3 separate regions of the Homo sapiens genome follow, and regions 2 and 3 are each linked to region 1. Evidence: fine-mapped expression QTL. A gene starts in region 1. Each other region holds a variant in brackets. All regions are shown on one strand. Distances are between the middles of the regions.

Region 1 (8,173 bases):
CAGGCCTTGGAGCATGGGGTGAGGGAAGGATGGACAGGTGGACCGATATTTGTGAAAACCATGAAATGCCAGTCTCAAACCAGGTGATTTGGCCAGAGCTCTCTTCTGATACTGCACAGAGGTTTGTGAACTGGAAGTAGTAAATGACAAAGCTCTTAGCAGAGATACCCCTGTGAGAGAACAAATTGGGTTCCTCACGCTAAGGGCAGGCTCTGGCCTCCTACACCTCATCTTTCTTCTTGGTGGCAGGACAATCCATGGACTGATCTATAATGCCCTGAAGTTGTTTATGGAAATGAATCAGAAGCTGTTTGATGACTGCACACAACAATACAAGGCAGAGAAGCAGAAGTGAGTATCTCTCTCCCCGGGAGACTTTCATCTTCTACCACCAGCTCACTGTGTTTCTCTCAAGCCCAACCCCAATCCTACTTTTGCTCCTCAGGGGCCGGTTCCGAATGAAGGAAAGGGAAGAGATGTGGCAAAAAATCGAGGAGCTGGCCCGGCTTAATCCCCAGGTGAGGTTTTCCTGCCACTGTTGTGAACTGAGGGGCCAGCCCATCTTGAGCTGGGGGAGAGTTTGTTGGGGGAGGAATATGGGGCACACAGGCCCCCAAGCCTCTGAAGTGGCTCTTAACGCTTGTCCATGTCTCCTCACTCAGTATCCCATGTTCCGAGCCCCTCCACCACTGCCCCCTGTGTACTCGATGGAGACAGAGACCCCCACAGCTGAGGACATCCAGCTTCTGAAGAGGACTGTGGAGACTGAGGCTGTTCAGGTGGGAGGGCAATGTAGGGGGATGGAGCAGAAATAATAGCTCTGGAAGGGAGAGGAGACAGAAACAGCAGAGCCAAAGAATAAGGGGACGGAACAATAGAATTCACTGGGAATTGGTCACCATTCCTCACCTTGTCCCTATTCACACACAGATGCTAAAAGACATCAAGAAGGAGAAAGTGCTGCTGCGGAGGAAGTCGGAGCTGCCCCAGGACGTGTACACCATCAAGGCACTGGAGGCGCACAAGCGGGCGGAAGAGTTCCTAACTGCCAGCCAGGAGGCTCTCTGACCCCTCACGTTCCTACCACAGGGCCACAGCCCACACAGCCCTGGGACACTGCCCTGGCCCTCCATACTCTGCTCCCTACTGGCTGTCTTGGGGGAAGGCAGCGCCTCTCTAGCTACTCAAGGGAGGGGGATGTGGGCACTTGAAGCAGGGACACCCACAGAATGGTCCCTCTTCTCCCCAAAAGGTGTTCATGCCTCCCTGTGGCTAGTACAGGCTGAGCACTAAGATGCTTAGTGCTCAGACAACCTGGGGATGCCTGTCCCCTACCTGCTCCTCACCCACAGCTACCTGAGGCTGCTCTGAGAAGTACACACAGGAATACATACGCTCCTCTATTCTTCCCTTCATCCTCATTTGAACGCCAGGTATCTCCCCTCCTCTCTCTCCCCTGCAGAGGCATGTAGGGAACAGCAGGAGATTATTCTCACCAAAGTTATGTCAAGCCCCATTGGTCCCAGAGTAGCTGAAGGGAAGCCAACCCCCCTGCAGCACAAATAGGCCCCCCAGTCCCAGCCGTGTGCTGGCAGATAGGGTTGTATTATTTCTTCTTACCCCATGCCTGACCAAGGGAGGTCAAAAGGAGAAAAGTATAGGCTGTGGACAATAACTGATGAATATAGGGCCCAGATGGACCAAGTGGGGCCGGGGAGGGATGAATAAACACCCTACCCCGTGCCCTGTCTTTGGTGAGCAGCAGCCCTGGGGTCACAGACATGGAAGGGACCACCCTGGGGCTGACTGCTTTTCTGTGCTGTTGGTTCCCAAAACTAGAAAGAAGGAAGCAGGGAGCGGTGCCCCAAGCATGGCTCCTGCCAACACCTATTTATTTCCTTGTTTGTGCTATGCTGGGCAGGCCTTCTCTTGTCCCTTATAGGTACCTTGGAGGGGCCAGGGGCTGAGGAAGGCCGGACCCAGGTTCCAGGGGCGCAGGCAGTGCGGCTTTTGGCTGTGTACATAGGGTGCTTTATTCTCCACAGAGTGATACATGCTAAGGTGGGTTGGGCTTGGACCGATGTCCCCATATGTACAGAACTGAATAAAGTGGGTCTCTGAGAAGTCTGATGTGCCTTGATGTGGAAAGGGAGACGGGGAAGATGGAAATGGACATTACAACCAGGGATGTGTTCAGTCCTGTGCTGGTTCTGGCCTGGAATGTAGGAATATAAGGCAGCTCTCACTGTGGTCACTTCCAGGCAGGGGATGCCTGCCGGGCTTGGAGGGCTTTCTGTACCACATCTTCCCACTGGGCATCCGATATCTCCCGAGCCCAGGCAGGAACCCCTGGCGCAGGCAGGCTTACTCCAGCCATTGTCCTTTTCACCAGCTCTACATGTTCTGAAATCAGAGCCAGAGGCCATTCAGGCATAGAAATAATGGGACCAGCTCCCCTCCCCAATCCCCGAATCAACCCAGAGCCCTTGGGCTGCTAGGGTCACCAAATCCACCTTGTTACTTTAAGGCAAGCCTGCCCATCCCCAAAGCTAGCAAAAGAGCATTTCACTTGGACTCTGAAGTCTACAAAATCTTAGTTTACAAACTATCTTTTTAGGATAGGGTCTTCCTCTGAAACTTCCTTCTACTGACTCATGCCAGTTCATTTCCTTAGTAATTATTCCAGAATGAAAGAATGATCTTTTACCTGGGTCCATGGGAATAGAGCTGTGGTTGTTCAACGCTGTAGCTCCCTCCTCATCTTCATCTTCACTCTCTAATGGTGGGTCTGGCAAATGAAGCCCCAGGGCCTGCAGAGCCACAGAAGACCGTTTGGGTCTAGGCTTTCAGGGAGCCCAGCTTCACCTGTTCAGGAACCATCCCTCCTCCACCCTACCTGGATTCGATCCTGGATGTCAGCAACTACATCTCCATCCCCCACTGGTGCCAGTTCCACCTCCTCTTGTTCAGGATCTTGGTTCAGGGGCTGGTAGGAGTAGCCAGCTGGGCCCGACCCCGTTTCCTCCTGCTCTTCCTCAGGCTCCTCACTGCTCCAATCCCCAGTGCCTTCTGAAGGGCCCTGATGTCCCAGTTCCTCAGTCTGATTGGGGAAGATACGCTCAGGGCCCATGGTGTCTCCTCCTAGAACTACTGTTGCCATCCGGGCAGGGGCTGCAAGAACAGGGAGGCGGTAGGACAGGGATCGGATGAAACCAGGCCCATCTTCATCCTCTCATCATCTCCTTGTAGTCTCCTGCGTGCAAAAAACCAGCTCCTCCCCGAGGCTCCTGCATCCTCCACCCCTCCGCCCCAATTCCAGCCTCTCGTTCCTCCCCCTCCTAAGTCGGGGTTCTTATCTTGAACCAGGCCCCACCAACTTGCTCCGCCACTTCCTAGTTAAACGCCCAACCGGAGGCCCTGCCACCTCCTAAAAGACACCCCTTCCAGAACCCCGGCTCCCCGCGCCACGCCTCCCCCGCGACTTGGGAACTCTGGGTCATCAGACTCCCCTAAACAGGTCGGCGTACCCGCCCCCTTCTCCCCTCTCCTAGAGGACCCCCTCTGTACCGCCTGACAGATGCCTTTCAGGCCCCATGGGCTCCCCTCAAATGGCCCCAGCTGCAGCGTCCCCCACCCGCCCCCATCCGAATCCCGGCGCCGGTGTTCCCGCGCGCCTCACCCGCTCAGAGCCCGCGGCCTCCACTTCCGGCGGGGCAGGACGTGCAGAGGTGCCTAGTCCTCCAGCCCCGCCCCATATCCATGATTGACGCTGGCGAGGACGAGGAGTCCGCCCCTTGCCCCGCCTCCGTCATTCCCAGCCCAAAAAACAAAGGACTGCATTACCCAGTGGCCTCCTCGGTCTCGACACATATTTGCACATGCGCAGAATCTCTCCTACGCCCCTGCCCACTCCTCAGCCCTCTCGTCCCTCAGGAAACGTATGGACTACAAGTCCCGAAATGCCTCCGGCACTTAGCTACGACTGCACGTGCGCGCACAGCTGCCCGCCGGAAGAACCGAGCTTGGCTGTGTTTATCTCGTTGGGGACTAAGGCGTCGGTTGGCGCGCAACGGGTTCTAGGCTGCAGGCAGCTCGAGGACCCGCGGCCCCGCCCCGGCTCGGCCTGGCAGGTAGCCTGGGATGGGTAGAAGGGCAAGGGAGAATTAGGGGGCTTAGGACGTGCTGTCTGGAGCTGGAGTGGCGGGGGAGGGGCCTGAGAGTGATGAGGTGGGGGTGGGGAGGGAGCTAGGGGGATGATGGGAAAGGAGAGTGTTAATGGGGAAAGCAGGGCTAGGGGAGGATGGCGAGGAGATGGGTAGGAGAGACCTGGTGTCTGGAGGAAGCAATGAAGGAAATGGGAAGGAAGACTGGGCCATGAAAACAGGGAAGCTGAGCATAATGGAAGGGGAGGGGTGTCTGGCGTGGTGGGCTAGGGGAGGCCGGAATGTCTGGAAGAAGACAGGGATAGAGTCATATGCAGAGAGGGGTATCGTGGTCAGTGCATGCTAATTTTTCTTTCCTTAGTGGAGGTGGGAAAATGGAGGGCTGTTGGGTGGAGCTTGGAATGGTAGGAGAAGGAAAAATGAGAAAACTGCAAAGCTCTCACGAGATCAAGAAGGGCGAGAAATGGGGAATAAAAAATGCAAGAGACCAGGCGGGTAGATACATTAAGGGAATAGAAGAAGTTTGAAAATGCTTGGTGGTGATGGAGGACTGGGGAGACCCAGGGATAAGAGGAGCCCCTGAGCGCCTGGGGGCTTGTTCTCCTTGAATTTGAGTTGTTTATATGGCAGAGAAACTAAAATTTTTTTTCTCCACCTTTGGCTGGAATTGCTTATCTCCTCTCCTGTGCATATTTTACTTTACCTTGACATATCTGAAGGGAAGAATAGAGAATATAAGGGAGGATGGAAGACTTCCATTCTTAAGCCCATCGACCTCCTAACAGTCTCCACAAGCCCAGACCCAAGATATTTTGGAGAGCGGGAGTAATGAAGTGAGAGTAGCTTCCTGCTGGGGCTATTTCAGGATGGGTCCCATGGCTATTTAAAGCTTAGGGTGTGGAGTTGGGGGAGGTTGGGTGGGTGGGACTAGCAAGCCAGCTGAAAGCCATGTCTCTTTCCTGCAAGGGGCCTCCCTTATTTGAGCTGTTTTAGTGCCTGAGGTTTTGCCTGGCCCTTTCCTCTGCCAGGGCTTCTTAAACAGGGAGCAGATGATGATACACCCAAACTCAGGAGATGCTTGCCAGCAAAAGCATTGTCAGTTGCAAGGATTTGCCTGAAAAAACCTCAGATGTACCCAGGTGTACGTGCCACTAGGTTGACAGGTTGTGTTTAAGAGACCATGACCAGCTGGGCATGGTGGCTCACGCCTGTAATCCCAGCACTTCAGGAGACCGAGGACGGTGGATCACCTGAGGTCAGGAGTTTGAGACCAGCCTGGCCAACATAGTGAGACCCCATCTCTACTAAAAATACAAAAATTAGCTGGGCATGGTGGCAGGCGCCTGTAATCCCAGCTACTTGGGAGGCTGAGGCAGGAGAATCGCTTGAACCCGGGAGGGAGGCAGAGTTTGCAGTGAGCTGAGATTGCACCATTGCGCTCCAGCCTGGGGGCAAGAGCGAGACTTCATCTAAAAAAAAAAAAAAAAAAAAAGACCATGACTTCTCATGCTGGATCTTTCTCTTGTCCTGCCCAAGGGCATTTTTTGCCTCCCTTCCCCTTTTTTTTTGTTTTGAGACAGAGTCTCGCTCTGTCGCCAGACTGGAGTGCAGTGGTGTGATCTCGGCTCACTCCAACCTCCGCCACCCGAGTGCAAGCAATTCTCCTGCCTCAGCCTCCTGAGTAGCTGGGACTACAGGTGCGCGCCACCGTGCCCAGCTAATTTTTGTATTTTTAGTAGAGACGGGTTTCACCATGTTGGCCAGGATGGTCTCCGTCTCTTGATCTCGTGATCCACCTGCCTCGGCCTCTCAGGGTGCTGGGATTACAGGTGTGAGCCACTGTGCCCAGCCCCTTCCCCTTTGCATTGCACACTCCCACCTCTATCCGCCTTTCAGGAACCCAAGTTGTGGAAGAGCTTGTTCTCTCTTTTCTACTGGAAATGGCTTGTTCTCTACCACAGTAGCAGGGATGGGGAAGTGGCAGGAGGAGAAAACCCCTCCCTCTATCACCATCCCCCAAGCCTAAGCATACACATACCTTTCTGGCTTAAGTCCTGGCAGCATACCAGGCACAGCTGTCAAAGGAACTCCTTGTGCCTGTGGGGGGCCCTGGGTGACCCCAATGACAACAACTCAGCTTGACAGGAGCTCCCTGTGAGGGGCTAACCAACCGCGGTAACATGGAGGTCCCTGTCCTGGATCAGTCCCGCCCTATCTTGGGTAGGGGGATTGTTCCACTCTAAAAGCCTGAAAGCTTTTCTGCTTTGAGGCACTCATGCCAGCTTTCAATGGACTGTTTGAGGCTGGCTGGGCTATTAATAGCTGTGAGTATTTTGAGATCCCTTTCCCCACCTCAAAGAACACAGATTCTTAGAGAGGTGGCAGTAAGCAGAGCAGAGACAAGAGAATATACCGTTTGGGAAGGGGGCTTCAAGTTTGTGCCAAGCCAGGGACAGAGTGGAGCCTCCACGAGTAGGTTGTGACCATGATATGCAGATTCTGAGCTGGCAATCAGGTGGGGGTGGCCCCACCCTTCACTGTTGGAGAACACTGGGCCCAGGCTGCTCCCTGACCTCGGCAGCTCCCTTGGGGCAGGGCCAGCCACCTGAGCTGAGACTAGTGCCCCTGTGGAGGGGTAGTGTGGGAGGGCCCCCAGGGTGACACTTGGAGGCAAAGGCTGGTTCTGGGCAGAGTCACAGTGAGCTGGGCAGAAGCCTCGCCTGAGGATCCCGTGGCCCCAATTTGTGTGCAGATAGCAGAGGCAGCAGGCCGTGCCGGGGGGGCATGTTGCTGTAACCAGTGGCCCAGGGGATGTTACGGTGGACAGTGCACCTGGAGGGCGGGCCCCGCAGGGTGAACCATGCTGCAGTGGCTGTCGGGCATCGGGTATACTCCTTCGGGGGTTACTGCTCTGGTGAAGACTATGAGACACTGCGTCAGATAGATGTGCACATTTTCAATGCAGGTAAGCCAATGCTGGGGCTGTCCCTGGGTCCCCACATCAGGGTGGGAACGGGCTGCTGATGAGGTTTGGCTGTGGTCTCTGGGACCAAGGGGATTGGGGACAAACATCTGGTTTGGGAAAAGTGGACAGCCTGGAGGGAGGTTCCCAGGGCTGAGCAGAGCTGTGCCCACAGTGTCCTTGCGTTGGACAAAGCTGCCCCCGGTGAAGTCTGCCATCCGTGGGCAAGCTCCTGTGGTACCCTACATGCGCTATGGACACTCAACCGTCCTCATCGACGACACAGTCCTCCTTTGGGGCGGGCGGAATGACACCGAAGGGGCCTGCAATGTGCTCTATGCCTTTGACGTCAGTGAGTATGGATCTCAGAGAGGCTATGTCCTTCCAGATGTTGCCTCAGTTGCCCAAGAAAGGTTTGGGTTGGGGGTCTTGGGGAGTAGAGTACCCCAGAGCTGAGGAGGGACTGTCATAGAGGGTGCTTAGTTGAGCCATTTTCTCATCTCCTTCAGATACGCACAAGTGGTTCACACCCCGAGTGTCAGGGACAGTTCCTGGGGCCCGGGATGGACATTCAGCCTGTGTCCTAGGCAAGATCATGTACATTTTTGGGGGCTACGAGCAGCAGGTAGGTCTGGGAATAAAATAAGAGGTTTAGGGTGGGACTGAGAAAGAGGGGAAGGGCAATTTAGGATGGTGAAATGGGAGGCTTTGGCTTGTTTGCAGGTTTTGAGGGGAGGGATGGAGGGTCAGAGAGTGACCATTGGCTCCCTCTTTTCTTCCTCCTTTTCTCTTCCTACTCAGGCGGACTGTTTTTCCAATGACATTCACAAGCTAGATACCAGCACCATGACATGGACTCTTATCTGTACAAAGGTCTGCTCTTTCTTTTTTTTCCCAAATCCCCACCCTCTGTTGAAGCAATGATAGGAAGCTCAGTCAGAGGAGATCCTCTTCCAGTCTTTGTGCTGACCCCTCCACCATCTCTCTGCCTCTGCCCAGGGCAGCCCTGCACGCTGGAGGGACTTCCACTCAGCCACAATGCTGGGAA
Region 2 (8,173 bases), 270 kb after region 1:
CGTTTGCTTTTCCCTGCTGCTGGCTGGCGGCCTTTGGGTCCCTGGCCCCGGGGCGGGGGCGGGCTGGAGTGGGGCTCCCCTCAGTGCTGCCAGGCTGGGGTGCGGATGGGGACAGGCGGAGGCGTTCGGCTAAGCCTCCAGGCTCGGAGGGCCCTGTCGCCCCACCCCTGACTCCCGTTACCTCACTGCCCGTCGGGCTGCCCCCCACCCCGCCCCAATAATTGGCCTTGCAATTGGATGCCAAAGAGCCCAGAGTTGAGGGGGAGCAGAGCTTTGAGCCCAGGTCTCTCAGAGCAACCCAACAGCCCCCTTTTTGCCCACGCCCCAATCCGCGTCCCCTGCCCCACCCCACCACTGAGGGCCCTGGGGGTCACCAAACATGCCCCCCCATTTCCAGCTCTTCCCACACCCCCACCCCCGAAAATAAAACTCAGGGACCAACATCTGCTTCCTTTGCACTTGCTCCGTCGACCCCGCTCCCCGCTCGGAGGGGCTTCCGTGGGGGAGGGGGCGGGGCTCCGGGCCCTCAGAGTTCTCAGTGTCGAGCGAGGAGAGGGGCTGGCCCCTGCCCCCGGAGAAGCGGGACTGGTAGGAGAGAGAAACTCAGCACCGGGGCCCAGCTGAGCCCCTTCCTGCGTAAGGAGACGCCTTCTAATTGCGGGGTGGGGGCGGAGTAGGGGAGGGATAGGAAGGGGATTAGCGAGAGGACCCTCGCGGAGGTCCTGAGTCCCAGTCGGTTTATTCCTGAGCCTTCCCCTCCCATCGTAAGTCCTTCCCTCGACCCCCCATTTTGTACTGCAATAATACTGTATTATACGCTTGCACTATTTCCCGACCCTGGCCAGCGGAAGCATGCACGAAAAACTCAAAACCACACACACGCTCACACGCACACACACGCACACGAAGATGGGACGCTTTTTTTCTTCCTCTCTCTCTCCGGGGTGCGTCCTCCTTAGTGTACATAGCGGCGTCGGGGGGTGGCCCCAGGCCCGGGTAGAAAAGCATGCACTGAGCCCCCTGCCCCTAGACTGCGAGTACTGTACAAATCCAACACTTGAAACCGACACGCACACGCGCGGCGCCGCCACGGGGGTGGGACACGGACACGCACCCACGCGCACACGGCCGCGCACGGGCGGGGAGGGGGCGCCCCGCCGTCACGCGTCGCTGTGCGAGGGATTTTGTGCCTTTTTAAGTCCCTGTATGTTAATGCAGACAATCCGGAGAGCTTGTGTACTACCAAATCCTGATTAAAGACGCCTTCCAGGAACCTGCGCCTCCGCCTGCTTTCTTTCACCCTCCCCCTTCCTTTCCCAGCTCTCAGTGTAGACCCTGGCTCTGAGGTCGCCGGGCTGGGCAGAGGGCAGGGGTTAGTCTGTTGCTGACTCTGGGACTGAGGGGTGGGCAAGTTCTGGGTCAGTGGATGAGCTTCGTCCACACCTTAGCCAGGCAGCTGGGTGAGGAGGGCACCCCAGAGGTTTGGGCCTAGTTGGACTTGAGTCACCCTTGCCCTGCTGGCAGTCTCCTTTCACTGAACGGGTGGGGAGGGAAGGGGTGAGTGGACTCTGGTCTCTGGGACTCAGCTCCAAATTGCCAACTTCCGGGTGGGGATGGAGGGTGTGTAGAAGTAGGGGGCTGGGCCCACCAGGCCCAGTGATCAGTTCTGTATGGGATCAGGCTTTTGAGACCAAGTGTCTGGTGGGACTAGAAAGCTAGGATGCCAGAGGCCTGTGAGAGGACACTGTACTGAGGAGCCTCCCACTGGCCCTCTGCTACGATGGGCAATCTGAGAGATATGGGAGATGCAGCCCTGGCCTTGGGGGTGCCAGGGTGGGGGTGGCCCGCCAAGGAGGGACACTGGAGCATGGACTGTGAGAACCTGGGGTTGGGGGTGCAGGGATGGAACATGGGTTGAAGGAGAACTCAGTCAGTGGGAGGGGTGGGCCACTAAGAAGGAAATAATGGCAGACTTCTGAGACTGGAGAGAGAGGGGAAAGGTGAGGAGGACAATGTAAAAGAGGAAGGCCCCCCCATACCTCCACCCCATCCCCGCACACTGCCAACCAGAAAGGCAAAGGGGCAAGCTCCAGCTGCATTCCCAAAGCCCCGGGGCATTTAGAAGACGCCCCCCACAGGCTGTCAGCTCCTCGCCCTGGGGCAGGCAAGGGTGGGTTTTGGACACAGAGATGTGGGGTCAAGTGGGTGTGGTTCTGCATAGACCCAGGGTAGGTGGCCACGTTCCCGGGTCATCTTACCCCTTCCGCCACCTTCCCCTTCCCCGGCATTCCTGGGTGTGGGGTGGAGTGGAGGGAGGGCTCTTGGCTTGGCAGAGACGTTTGGAGAGTGGTGGCACAGACAGACAAATGCAAGTGAAGGGTCTGGGAGAGGCGGTGCTGAGTGCGGAGCTGACAGAGGTGATGCAGGCACATCTCATCTCCTCGCAGGTGGAGCAGGGGTGTTGGGGGTGCTTCTTCCCTACTGGAGGAGAGGAGGTGGGAGGCATGCACGAGGCAGTTTCTGAGAGAGGAGGAGGAACTGCTGTGAGAGGCACAAGCCTCCGACCTCAGCATAGGAGGAGTGGGGAGCCAGGGCTCACCCTCCTGCTTTCATCACACATCGCCTCCCAGCCCCACATCTTGGACTTTGGGACTGTGGGCCGGGGTGCAGTGCCTGAAGTCTGGGGCTGGCTGGGGTCCAGGCAGGAGTGGCTCCATGCACCCTGTGTGGGGGTTAAGGGTGGGGCTATGTGGAGCCCCGTCTCCAGTGTCGGTGTCAGAGAAGTTTCCCCAAGGGCATGAGAGCCCAGTTTTGTTGGTGGCAATTGAAGATCAGAGTCTGGTCCATCCTCTCCCTTCACTTTTCCTCCTAACTGGAGTAAACATGGACTTGGGCTGGGCTCTTGAGCTGGTGAGGCCTAGCCCTCTAGATGAGGCACAGTGCATGGAGGGGAGGGGCTGGGGCTTTCATTCTCTCTGAGGGTATCAGTTTGATTGGCCTGTCCTCCTCCTCTCCCCACAGCCGAACCCTTACCATATATGCCTTTGGCTGAACTCTGAATCACTAAGGAGCTTTAAAACAGCCAGATTTCTGGGCCTCTTCTCTGACCTACAGAATCTGGGGGTAGGATCCAGGATTGTGTATTTTTAAAAAGCAACTCTGGACAATGTTGTGCCAAGCCAGGCCTGGGAACCACAATAAGCAGATTAGAATCATAAAGGTTGCTGCCCTGAGAAGGAAGCAAGAAGGTGTGAATTTTGTCAGACAGCTAAAGAGCCACGCACACTGACGGTGTCTGTGGATCACTGGCTGAGTGAATGAACTCAAGATCAAATGGGCAAATGGATGAATAATTCACTGGGCATTCAGGAGAGGCAGGGAGACGGTTAGGCTACTCTCTGAGGAGGGAGGAATTTGAGCCCAGCCTCTGCCCCTCCCCAGCACAGAGCCAGATGGGGGAAGGGCAGAGGGACTTTGAAACCGAAAAGCCAGCATGCCTAGGTTGGTGTGGGGGTGGCAGTGATCCTTAGGGCAAAGTTGTCCTCACCCTGAGATTCAGGGCTCTTCCTCCCAAAAGGCAGAGGGTTCCAGGTGTCCCCATGTGGGACTGAGTGGGAGACACTGGAAAGAGTTTTGGGTCCTGGGCCACCCTGGTGGATGTGCTTCATAACCTGGACCAATGCCCAAATCCATGCCCCTCTCTGTGCCTCAGTTTCCCAGTCTGATTTTATGACTGATCATTGATTTCCAGTTCTCATTCCTCCTCTCTCCCAGGTAATAGGAGGGGAGGGCTTGGAGGCAGGAGAAAGGGTTCCACCTACAACCATCCAATGTGAGCACTGTGTGTGTGTGTTGCGGGGGATCCCATCCTCTACATGGGGCCTTTTCAGAGAGATCCAGGGCCTGGCCAGAGAGCAAAGGAAAGGGTGTCTCTAACCAAGGTGCCAGGGATTAGAGAGGGACAATAGGTAAAGGTTCTGAGGAGAATGGGTGGCCTGGTGGAGTTAAAGGCCATCCCTACTGGGCAGGATGTGCTGGTGCCAGTTGGGTGAGTTCAGAGGTGGTTGGGAGAGAGACATGCTCAGAGCTCTCTGTCTGTCTACCTGTCCCTGACTCTCAGTGCCAGCACCCACCCACCCCATGGTCCCCACTCATCC[G/A]GGAGCTTACAGCAGCCCCTCCACCTCTATCCAGCCATTTTCTCTAGCCATAACATTGGTGACTGGCAAAGTGTCCCAGCACAAGGCCTGGCACACAGTTGGTGCTTAGTGTTTGCTAAATGAATGAATGGATTAATAAGAACGAATATTGTGCAGAAAAAGTAAATTCTTCTGGACACTTCCAGCCTATATGTGGAGGGGACAAAGTTTTTTGTTGTTGTTGTTGTTGTTGTTGTGTTTTTTGAGACAGTGTCGTTCTGTTGCCCAGGCTGGAGTGCAGTGGTGCGATCACAGCTCACTGCAGCCTTGATCTCCTCAGCCTCTCGAGTAGCTGGGACCACAGGCGTGCACAACCACGCCCAGCTAATTTTTGTATTTTTAGTGAAAACAGGGTTTTGCCATGTTCCCCAGGCTGAGGGGACCCTAGCAACCCTGTTTGAGCCAGGTAGGGAGCTTTCTGAGAAAGCTTTCTAAGAAAACTTTCTAACTAAGAAAAGTTTTCTAAGAAAGTTCCCTACCTGGCCCAAACAGGGTTGCTGGGGTCCTGCTGGAATCTGAAGCTATCTTCTTGCATCACCCCCACCAAATCCTCACTGATGGTCTGATTACAGGGAAGATCATGGCAGTTGGGAAGGGGAGCAGCCACAGCCCTGGACAGATCCTCAGCCTTGGAGGTCTCTGCCTTCCTCTCCACCAGGCTTTGTGCTATTTGCATGGAGGCTTCGGCTGGCAGAGCCCCCTCCTTTCCCCACACGCTATTCCCCATAGGTGTGGCATCCAGGCTTTTCTGGGGTTGGGGAGGGGGCCAATGACCTCCAAACCAAGGTGAGCAGAGCAGGAGGTGGGAGGTAGGGGTGGGAGAGAGCTAACATTTATTGAGCAACTGCTATATGCCTTTGCTTATATGACCTCATTTATGATCACAACCTTTGTGGAATGTGCATATCCCCACTTAGTTTCCTGATATAGAGAAAATAAGGACCATCTCTATCTTGTTCATACTTGATCCACAGATTCTTAGACTATAACATGGTGACCAGGACAAGAGACATTCAAAGACCACTTCTTGAGGGAGTAAATGAAGAAACCCTCAGGGATCTCTGTGTATCAGGAGAGGGAACCCTATAAATACACGCATGTAGGACAATAGGTGGGAGATTCTCTCACAGAAGGATGTGGAAAACAAGTAGAAAAGGGAGAATAAGTAAATCTGCTTGGTGGGTGGACAGGAAAGTTGACAGGAAGGCTTTGTCTCCTCTTTGCTAAGACCAGGAGCTGTTTGAGCTGGTCTTGAAGGAAGGGTAGCAAGTTATCATGTGCAGAGAGGAGGTGAGAGGAGCCCCCAGGTGGAGGAAACTGCCTGGGCTAAGTGTGAGCTGGAAGATGCACTTAGGAACTTCTGGAAGCATCGGAATGCGTGGAGTGTAGGCAGGGGCAGGGGACGGAGGGTGTTGCAATAAGTGAGACCAGAGCAGCCAGTAGTAGCCAGGTCACAGGGCTGGGTGGGGGATTCATGGGCCAAGTCAAAGATCTGAACTGTCTTAGGCCAGGCGTGGTGGCTCACGCCTGTAATCCCAGCACTCTGGGAGGCCGAAGCGGGTGGATCACCTGAGGTCAGGAGTTTGAGACCAGCCTGGCCAACACGGCGAAACCCCGTCTCTACTAAGAATAAAAAAAAATTAGCCGGGCGTGGTGGCGGGCACCTGTAATCCCAGCTACTAGGGAGGCTGAGATGGGAGAATCACTTGAACCCGGGAGGCAGAGGTTGCAGTGAGCCGAGATCGTGCCACTGCACTCCAGCCTGGGCGACAGAGCAGGGCTCCATATCAAAAAAAAAAAAAAAAAAGATCTGAACTGTCTCCTAAGGACTGTGGCAGCCATAGCAGATTTGAAGCAGAGAGAGATGGAATCAGATTAAGTTTCAGGAAGATCACTCAGGCAGATGTAAAAAGGATGGACGGCAGTGCAGAATGGAGAGAACAGGCCGGTGGCTGGGGAACCACCAGGAAAGGCAAGGCTGTGCTCGTGGGCCTGGGGTAGCAGACACAGAGAAGTTTAAGAAGGATGCTTGGCAGGACTCCTTGGCAGCGTAGATGGGCAGGAAAGTGGGGAGGCAGGATATCCCCGGGGCTTCTGGTCTGGATGGGCTGTGTTCGGCTAGCTTAGGAAGACAGAAGCCCAGCGTGTTCGAAAATGCTAGCAAAGTGCTGGACATCGTCAGCACCGTCCCACCATGGAACAAAGCTGTGTCAGCCCTGATGCGCCCAGGGCATTGCGGGTGCCTGGGGATGTCTGTGTATTGAACAGGGTGGAGCTAGAGTGAAGGAGACACAGCAGCCAAGGTCCTGACCAGGTGGTCAGACCTTTCTAGTCTGGAAGGAAGGAGGCTAAGGGGGACATGGCAAGAGTCTAGAAAACCAAGGACTGCTTTGTCCATCACATTGCCAAGGGCTCTGCACAAAACTTTGAAGAGGAAAATGGAATGGAGCTCAAGTATACCTGTCGAGGGCTGGACAAATTCCTGGCTGAGAGGATGGATTGGAGGTCGAGGGGCCCAGCCTGCACTTTTAAGGGTAGAGGACAGCCCCGCCTTTGCCCTTGTCCAGCACAGGATCTGGTGGCCCTGGGCAGCCAGCTCTCTGGCCACAGAGAAACTGCACACCCTGAGGTGGTACTGAGGGCATCTAGGAGCCAGCCCGGCACAGCCCATCCAGGAAGTGGCACAGATACTTGCCGCCGTCTCTGGACCTGGCTTTCTCATCTGTAAAAGGAAGGGCTGATCTGCGTGGTGGTCGTGGTTCCTTCCAGTTTTCATTTTCTGTTATTGTTGCTGACTCGGGTGCAGGATGCACATGGCGATGAGAGGGGCTGGGGACATAGAGAGGCTGGGAGGCAGAAAGGCCACCAGGATCAGGGCCTGGGACTTCAGGGGACCTAGAGCATGGACAGTCATTCATCAGAGGTTTCCTGAGCACTCACTAGGCGCCAGAGACCATTCTAGGCCCTGGGGACAGAGCAGTGAACAAGACAGACCCAGTGCCTGTGCTTAACTTTATGGAGCTCACACTCTGGTAGACGACCTGGGCCTGTGAGTCTCCTAGGTTGTGGGTGCAGCTGAAGTCTTCCTGGGCCCAGGAGGGTGGGTGACCTCAGAGGGTCCCTGTGTATGCCCCTTGCAGGTGTTCTCCGTGGCGCCCCCATTTGAGGTGAATGGCCTCCCACGAGCTGTGCCTCTGAGTCTGCCCTACCAGGACTTCAAAAGAGACCTCTCCGATTACCGAGAACGGGCGCGGTTGCTCAACAGGGTCCGGAGGGTGGGCTTCTCGCACATGCTGCTCACCACCCCCCAGGTCCCACTGGCTCCTGTTCAGCCTCAGGCTAATGGGAAGGAGGAAGAGGAGGAGGAGGAGGAAGATGAGGAAGAGGAAGAAGAGGATGAGGAAGAAGAAGAGGAGGAAGAGGAAGAGGAGGAGGAAGAAGAGGAGGAGGAGGAAGAGGAGGAGGAGGCTGCAGCGGCAGTTGCCTTGGGGGAGGTGCTGGGGCCTCGTAGTGGCTCCAGCAGTGAGGGGAGTGAGAGGAGCACTGACCGGAGCCAGGAGGGTGCCCCGTCCACGCTGCTGGCAGACGATCAGAAGGAGTCCAGGGGCCGGGCCTCCATGGCCGATGGGGACCTGGAGCCTGAGGAGGGCTCCAAAACGCTGGTGCTTGTCTCTCCTGGCGACATGAAGAAGTCGCCCGTCACTGCCGAACTGGCCCCCGACCCCGACCTGGGCACCCTGGCTGCCCTCACTCCTCAGCATGAGCGGCCCCAGCCCACGGGCAGCCAGCTGGACGTATCTGAGCCAGGCACCCTGTCCTCTGTCCTCAAGTCTGAGCCCAAGCCCCCGGGGCCTGGGGCAGGGCTGGGGGCCGGGACAGTGACCACAGGGGTCGGGGGCGTGGCAGTCACCTCCTCACCCTTCACCAAAGTTGAGAGGACCTTTGTGCACATTGCGGAGAAAACCCACCTCAACGTC
Region 3 (8,173 bases), 35 kb before region 1:
TGAGGTAGCAGACCTGAAAACCTCTCCCTCTAATGGGTACCAGGAAGAGAATATCACCTCCTATCCCGACTCTGGCTCCAAAAAATTTTCTCAGTAAAGATAACCTTTCTGTGACACTTTCAACTTGGCCCAGAGCCAGTGAAATGGTAAAGACATTTATTCCCACAAGACCTATTAGTGACACCAGGCATCCACAGGGATTAACATTAAGTGGTCATTAGTGGGGAAACTGAATTCAGGCTGTGGGAAAAGCTGAACGGGTTGGTTCAGTCATTGGTTGGTTCAATGAGCTCTACTCTTGAGTACCCCAGTAGTTTTTCCTCCATTCAGGAGGAAACCTACATCCACTCCCTTTCACATGTATTTCACATGTATCTCTACCTGACATCCCAAAGTATTAACTGGTTACTCTAGTACTGCCCAGTAGAACTCTCTACAATGGAATAGTCTATATCTGCATGTGCTATTGAGCACTTGAAATGTGGCTAAAAACAAAACAAAAACAAAGAAATGTAGCTAAAGCAACTAAAAAACATGATTTAGTTTTTTTTTTTTTTTTGAGACTTAGTCTCACTTTGTCGCCCATGATGAAGTGCAGTGGCACAGTCTCGGCTCATTGCAACCTCTTCCTCCTGGGTTCAAATGATTCTCTTTGTGCCTCAGCCTCCTGAGTAGCTGGGACTATAGGCATGTGCACCACCATGCCTGGCTAATTTTTGTGGGTTTTATTTTTTTCTTGAGATGGAGTCTCGCTTGTCACCCAGGCTGGAGTGCAGTGGCACCATCTCGGCTCACTGCAAGCTCCGCCTCCTGGGTTCAAGGGATTCTCCTGCCTCAGCCTCCAGAGTAGCTGGGACGACAGGCATGTGCCACCACACCTAATTTTTTTTTTTTTTGTATTTTTAGTAGAGACGGGGTTTCACCGTGTTAGCCAGGATGGTCTCAATCTCCTGACCTTGTGATCTGCCTGCCTTGGCCTCCCAAAGTGCTGGGATTTAATTTTTGTATTTTTTAAAATAGAGATGGGGTTTCGCCATGTTAGCCAGGCTTACTTTATTTAGTTTTAACTAAATTTAAAAATTTAAAAAGCCACAAAGTGGCTGGTGGCTTCCATATTGGACAGCACCATCTAAACCATATATCTAGGTCCTTAATTAAACACTATACTGTATTTGTCCCCCTAAACACAACTTTCATTTTTTTCTTTTTTTGAGACAGAATCTTGCTCTGTCACCCAGGTTGGAGTGCAGTGGTGTGATCTGGGTTCACTGCAACTGCCACCTCCCAGGTTCAAGCGATTCTCCTGCTTCAGCCTCCCCAGTTGTTGGGTTTACTGGTGTGCACCACCATACTGGGCTGATTTTTGTATTTTTAGTAGAGATGAGGTTTCACCATGTAGGCCAGGCTGGTCTCGAACTCCTGACCTCAAGTGATCTGCCTGGCTCAGCCTCCCAAAGTGCTGGGATTACAGGCATGAGCCACTGCGCCTGGCCTTTTTTTTTTTTACACAATGAAGGTTTATTTTTTTGTCACTCTTATGTCTGTTATGGCGAACTGGTGAGTCTTTACTCAGTAACCCATGGAAATGGAACAACTATTATCTGTTCTACAACTTTCTTCTTGAAGTAAAGGCAGAAACCAAAAACTTTCCTTGGATGTATTTAATAAAATATTAAAACTAAACACCAGGCACCAAAGATAATAAAGACTCCTTTCCTTCAAGGTATTTACAATATATAATTGGGGATTAAACAGATTATGTAATCATAACAAGATAGAATAAAATAAATGCCATAAAAAAGATAGAAAATGCTATAGGAGGAAGTTCTAAATTCGTGGCTGTGAGATCATGAAAGGCTTTGTGATAAAGGTGTCATCTTTAGATGGCTCTTGAGGGAAAGGAGGGTAGGATTTTAACAGATGAGGCTAGAATAATAGGAAACAATTTGAAGTCAAGGATAAGAATGAGCAAAAGCACAGAGACATCATCCTCCATATTATAAAGCACAATACTGAATACATTGTAGCAATTCAATAAACTAATTAGATTGAGTAGATTAACATACACATCTGAAACCTCACTTTTTTTTTTTTTTTTTTTTACACAGAATTTCGCTCTGTCGTCCAGGCTGGAGTGCAGTGGTGTGATCTGGGCTCACTGCAACCTCCACCTCCCAGGTTCAAACAATTCTCCTGCCTCAGCCTCCCAAGTAGCTGGGATTACAGGCATGCACCACCACACCCAAACTTCACCTTTCACCTGAATGGATGAAAGCCTTTTGTATGCCCCACTACATTATGGAGGCTTATGATATTTTGATTACAGAATATGGATCAATAGGCCGGGTGAGGTGGCTCACGCCTGTAATCCCAACACTTTGGGTGGATCACCTGAGGTCAGGAGTTCGAGACCAGCCTGACCAATACGGTGAAACCCCGTCTCTACTAAAAATTACAAAAATTAGCCGGGCGTCGTGGCGCGAGCCAGTAGTAGGAGGCTGAGACAGGAGAATCGCTTGAACCTGGGAGGCGGAGGTTGCAGTAAGCCGAGATCGCATCACCACATTCCAGCCTGGGTGACAGAGCAAGACCCCATCTCAAAAAAAAAAAAAAAAAAAAAAAAAGGAAAGAAAGAAAAAGAAAATAGATAAATGAGGCTAAGAAACATTATGCTTTTTTTTTTTTTTTTTTGAGACAGAGTTTCACTCTTATCGCCCAGGCTGGAGTCCAATGGCGCGATCTTGGCTCACCGCAACCTCCGCCTCCCAGGTTCAAGCGATTCTCCTGCTTCAGCCTCCCAAGTAGCTGGGATTAGAGGCATGCACCACCACGCCCGGCTAATTTTACATTTTTTTAGTAGAGACGGGGTTTCTCCATGTTGGTCAGGCTGGTCTCGAACTCCCGACCCCAAGTGATCCGCTCGCCTCGGCCTCCCAAAGTGCTGGGATTACAGGCGTGAGTCACCGCGCCCGGCTAGAAACATTATGTTCAAAGTCCGGGATGATATGGGGCACGAGTCCTAAATCTTCCAATTTACCTAAGACAGAGAAGAGGGTATAAGAAAGAGGAAGCACTCCTGACCCCAGTCCTTTATCCTACCTGAATTCTGAGCTCTCCCATTTCCAGGGGGTCACAGCCAAGATTAAAAGCCAAAGTGGCAGGGACAAGCGCCAGTCCGTCAGCGAGGGGCTCTCCCAGCGGTCCAGAGCCGGGTCCCAGTCTATCAGAGAGGTCCCAGCGAGGTTCTAGGACCTGCACCCTAGCCAAGTGCGGCTGTGAAGTGTTCGATGACTCTCTGGCCTGGGCCACCCACACCCATTCGCCCTGGAAGAGGCCAAGGCCACGGAGACAGCTCCGGCTCACCCCTAGTGAATCTCCAGTCCCTCCCAGAACTCCCTGGAGTCGCCGCACTGTGCCAGAAACCGCAAAGGAGGACACCACGGGCGGGGGTGGGGGCCGACTGCTGTCCCCAGACTCTGGACACAGTCTGGCCCGCCCGCGGAGCTCAGTCACAGCCAGCCGAGTCCCTGGGCCCAGCAGCCCTTGCAACGCCGGCCGCGTCTCCAGCACCCGCGGTCCGGGCACTGGGAGGGTCTCTCCGCGCCTCACCAGCAGCGGCCCGACTCGCGGTCCGAGCCCAGGCCCCAGCGAGGTGCCAAGCAGTGCCCAACCTAGCGCCGGGGGCCGCCGCACCGCCCGCGCCCGCACCCAGGCCCCGGAGCCCAGTGCCAGGAGCCGCAGCAGCGCGCGGCTAACCAGTAGCTGCGGCGGCCCGGGACCCTGCTCTTCGGTGCCCGCGTCCGGCCCCTCCAGGGCTGCCACCAGCAGCGCCGGCCCTGCCGGGCTCTCCCCTGCAGGCCTCAGGGCCAGCACCAGGCCCAGCTCCGCCGCCGGCCACGGGCCCCCGGGTGGCAGCAGCACTGCCAACGGGGGTGTCTCGGTCGGAAAGGGCTCCAGGACCCGCAAGACAGCCAGCGCCATGGTGACAGGACACCAACGAGGAGGGTGAAGGAGCGCAGCTTCCGGAGCCAGAGAGCCAGACGACTAGTGTGCGCGAGGGCCGCTTCCGCTTCCGTCAGGGGAGGCCAGAGGAAAAGGGGAGGGGGGTCGGGTGCCGCGAACTTGCTCTGAGGGGGTTAGCTGCGCCTCGGATTGATCTGCGTCGTGCCTCGATAGGCAGTAACCTTCATCGCTGCGGTTGCGTAGCGTTTACCCATGCGCCATTTGAACTTGTGCTTAAGGGATTTATCTTTGCCTTCTACGGAAGTAATGTTCTCTTAACTATTTTTCCCCGTGGCATGAACGTAACAGTTTATTGACTGATAAATGAACAGTCAGCATGCTCGGGATGACTGGGCCCAGTACTGGGAGCTCTAGGTGAAATGTTTCGGAAGGAGTCCGCTCCTCTGCGGAGCTCCTGCAGCTTCCCCTGTGGAACTGTGAGCACTGAGGTTTGAGGGTTGCAGGAAAGGTTGCAGGAGGGAGTAGCAGGATTAGAAAACTGTCTCACACTTGCTTATAGGTATATAGTGGCTGCTGAGTGAATTACTAGATGTGATTCATACAGCCCTGGAGTGCTTGGTGCCACCACACATGTTCCAGCACATCTGGCACAAAACCCATGTTCCAGGACTTCTTGCCCTGTTCATTGTTCTGTTTGTTTTACTCCCACCAAACTTAAGTTGAAGACAAAACAGCTTTTCTTTCACCCCCCCCCC[C/CCCCG]CAAATCCTTGCAGATCGGAAACCCATTCACTTTCTATCCTAGAGCGGGGCAGGCAGCAGAGCAGGCAGAAGGAAAGGAGTTCAAGGCTTCTGTCAGCATAACACCAACAGTCGACTTCCTGCGTGTGCTGTTATTTAGATTCCATCCTTCTCTTCACCTCCACTGTTCTGTACAAGACACTCAGCTAGTGGTAGGCCACATTTCCTTTTTTATGGCAACAGGGTCCTACTCTGTCACCCAGGTTGGAGTACAGTGGCACGATCCCCATTCATTGCAGCTTCTACCGTCCCAGGCTCAAGTGATCTCCCACCTCAGCCTCCCGAGTAACTGTAGCCGGGACCACAGGCACACGCCACCATACCCAGCCAATTTTTTTTTTGAGACGGAGTTTCGGTCTTGTTGCCCAGGCCAGAGTGCAATGGCACGATCTCAGCTCACTGCAATCTCCGCTTCCCAGGTTCAAAGAATCTCCTGCCCCAGCCTCCCAAGTAGCTGAGATTACAGGTGTGTGCCACCACACCCAGCTAATGTTGTATTTTCAGTAGAGACGGGGTTTCACCCTGTTGGTCAGGCTGGTCTCGAACTCCTGGCTTCAAGTGAGCCACCTGCTTACGCCTCCCAAAGTGCTGGGATTACAGGCATGAGCCACTGCGCCTGGACTAATTTTTTATTTTTTGTAGAGACAGAGTTTCTCTGTGTTGCCTAGGCTGGTCTCAAACTCCTGGTCTGAAGAGATCCTCAGGCCTCAGCCTCCCAAAGTGCTGGGACTACAGGCATAAGCCATCATGTCCCACTGCATTTCCAATTATTAACAATTATTTTCACTTACAATAAATGAATTGGATGGTGCCAATCTCCATTTTCTAGACCTTACATTCTCTTTCAGCTACTGCTCAGCTTTCTCCATCTCTCCTTTCTTCTTGAGGCAGTCTTCTATTTTGTACATTATACATTCCTGAAAATTTGAAAGACAAATATATGAAAACTATTAGATTTGCATATTATAAGGGGCTGGGCGCAGTGGCTCATGGCTGTAATCCCAGCACTTTGGGAGGCCAAGTGGGTGGACTGCTTGAGGCCAGGAGTTTGAGACCAGCCTGGCCAACATGGTGAAACCCCGTCTCTACTAAAAATACAAAAATTAGCTGGGTATGGTGGTGTGTGCCTGTAGTCCCAGCTACTCGGGAGGCTGAGGCAGGAGAATGGCGTGAAGCCGGGAGACAGAGCTTGCAGTGAGCCGAGACTGCGCCACTGCACTCCAGCCTGGGTGACAGAGTGAGATTCCGTCTCAAAAAAATAAATAATAGAAAAAAATAAATAAAATAGCATGCAAGAATGTACTAACCAGGAACCATGGCTTGTGTCTATAATCCCAGCTATGGGGAGGCTGAGGCAGAAGGATCACTTGAACCCAGGAATTTGAGGCTATGATTGTGCCACTGCACTCCAAGTGGGTGACAGAGCAAGACCTTGTCTCTTAAAATATATAAAATTAAAAGAAAAAAAAACTAAATAAAGAATGTTCTAGGTACCTAGATTCACATGGATGAAAGTTCCCATTTGGTAGTGCTACTATATGTTTCTTGGTCCCCTATGTCCCAGAGGAACCAAGGGCTAGATAGATGGTACATGGGCCTAAAGAGGATATGCCTGCTTTCCTCAGTAGCAGGCAAGCTCTAGGCCTCAGGACTATAGTGCTCCTTGAGGCCTTGGAGATGGGTAAAAACATCAGTTATCTTGCCTGGATCAGCACTCATACAGACACAAATACCCACCCACAAATAAATGTCCTTTTCTCCCAAGCTTTTCTCCCAGCAGGTAACAGCGGGCATGTAGTCCACTTTGTGTTACCCTGAAATCGTCATTAGTCACCGAAAGCCAAATACTACTTCTGTAAGATCGCCAGGACCCTACATTTGCCATCTTCACTTCCTCACCTCTTGATGCTCACTCTTCCACTCACTAAAAACGGTCTTCCACTCTCTGAAAAAATCACCCATAATCTTCTAATTGCAGAATCAAGATGATGCTGTTCTTTCTCTGACACTACTGACCAATTGTCTTTTATTTCCTTTGCCATTATGACACCAGTTGTCCTCCTACAACTCTGATCACTTCCAGAAATCATCCTCAACTCTTCCCTTTCCGTTACCGTCCCCCCCACAATACAATGAATCACCATATCCTGTTGATTCTACACATTTTCATGCTCCATCCTCTCTTCTCCATCCCCACGGCCACTGTCTTGTAACATTGCTCTCCTGGGTACCTGGGTAAGGGACACAGGTTTTGTGTTTTTTTTTTTTTTTTTCAGATGGAGTCTTGCCCTGTCGCCCAGGCTGGAATGCAATGGTGCGATCTCGGCTCACTGCAAACTCCACCTCCCGGGTTCAATGGATTATCCTGCCTCAGCCTCCTGAGTAGCTGGGATTACAGGCACCCACCGTCATGCCTGGCTAATTTTTGTATTTTTGTAGAGACGGGGTTTTGCCATGTTGGCCAGGCTGGTCCTGAACTCCTGACCTCAGGTGATCCGCCCTCCTCAGTCTCCCAAAGTGCTGGGATTACAGGCGTGAGCCACTGCGCCTGACCTTTTTTTTTTTTAAGACTAAATATTTTATTTTATATAGAATTTTAAAAATTTATTTTTTGTACATGAATAAGTTCTTTAGTGGTGATTTATGAGATTTTGATGCAGCCATCACCCAAGCAGTGTATACTGTACCCAATGTGTAGTATTTTTTTTTTTTTTTGAGACGGAGTCTTGCTCTGTCGCCCAGGCTGGAGTGCAGTGGCATGATCTAGGCTCACTGCAACCTCTGCCTCCCGGGTTCACGCCATTCTCCTGCCTCAGCCTCCCGGGTAGCTGGGACTACAGGCGCCTGCCACCACGCCCGGCTATTTTTTTGTATTATTTTAGTAGAGACGGGGTTTCATCGTGTTATCCAGGATGGTCTCGATCTCCTGACCTCGTGATCCGCCCGCCTCGGCCTCCTAAAGTGCTGGGATTACGGGCGTGAGCCACCGCGCCCGGCCTCCATTGTATCATTCTCATGCCTTTGCATCACAGGTTTCTTCTTTTTTTTTTGTAGACGGAGTCTTGCTCTGTCGCCCAGGCTGGAGCGCAGTGGCATGATCTCGGCTCACTGCAACCTCCACCTACCGGGGTCAAGTAATTCTCCTGCCTCAGCCTCCTACCGGGTTCAAGTGATTCTCCTGCTTCAGTCTCCCGAGTAGCTGGGACTACAGGCGCGCGCCACCACGCCCCGCTAATTTTTGTATTTTTCATAGAGGCATGGTTTCACCATGTTGGCCGGGATGGCCTCGATCTCTTGACTCGTGATCCGCCCACCTCGGCCTCCCAAAGTGCTGGGATTACAGGCGTGAGCCACCGCACCCTGTCTAATTTTTGTATTTTTAGTAGAAATGGGGTTTCACCACTATGGTCAGGCTG

What was found. PIP is the estimated chance that this variant, and not a neighbour inherited with it, causes the effect.
Region 2: its variant is fine-mapped to the expression of MEA1 in whole blood (INTERVAL, PIP above 0.99).
Region 3: its variant is fine-mapped to the expression of MEA1 in whole blood (INTERVAL, PIP above 0.99).

The regions. Positions count from the first base shown.
Region 1 is chr6:43,010,219-43,018,391 of GRCh38, forward strand. It overlaps MEA1 (male-enhanced antigen 1), which reads right to left and starts at 3,728. Exons shown (of 4, transcript NM_014623.4): 1 at 3,568-3,728; 2 at 2,897-3,171; 3 at 2,708-2,810; 4 at 925-2,403. The coding sequence starts at 3,595. The coding sequence ends at 2,252. It overlaps PPP2R5D (protein phosphatase 2 regulatory subunit B'delta), which reads left to right. Exons shown (of 16, transcript NM_006245.4): 13 at 250-351; 14 at 446-518; 15 at 663-779; 16 at 931-2,124. The coding sequence ends at 1,068. KLHDC3 (kelch domain containing 3) reads left to right here and starts at 4,031. Exons shown (of 11, transcript NM_057161.4): 1 at 4,031-4,130; 2 at 6,916-7,128; 3 at 7,301-7,477; 4 at 7,635-7,750; 5 at 7,927-7,998; 6 at 8,125-8,173. The coding sequence starts at 6,975. RefSeq lists enhancers at 1,396-1,896, 3,860-3,979 and a silencer at 3,600-3,649.
Region 2 is chr6:43,275,391-43,283,563 of GRCh38, forward strand. TTBK1 (tau tubulin kinase 1) reads left to right here. Exons shown (of 15, transcript NM_032538.3): 14 at 7,337-8,173. Among named protein-coding and RNA genes, the nearest start is that of SLC22A7, 19 kb to the right of the region's middle. RefSeq lists a silencer at 1-147 and enhancers at 1,887-2,542, 2,543-3,197. The variant G/A (reference allele first, on the strand shown) is at 4,158.
Region 3 is chr6:42,975,170-42,983,342 of GRCh38, forward strand. PEX6 (peroxisomal biogenesis factor 6) reads right to left here and starts at 4,012. Exons shown (of 17, transcript NM_000287.4): 1 at 3,100-4,012. The coding sequence starts at 3,981. It overlaps LOC124900215 (a long non-coding RNA gene), which reads right to left. Exons shown (of 2, transcript XR_007059580.1): 2 at 5,373-5,674. RefSeq lists enhancers at 3,272-4,213, 4,374-4,423 and silencers at 3,584-3,963, 4,618-4,814, 6,053-6,271. The variant C/CCCCG (reference allele first, on the strand shown) is at 4,719.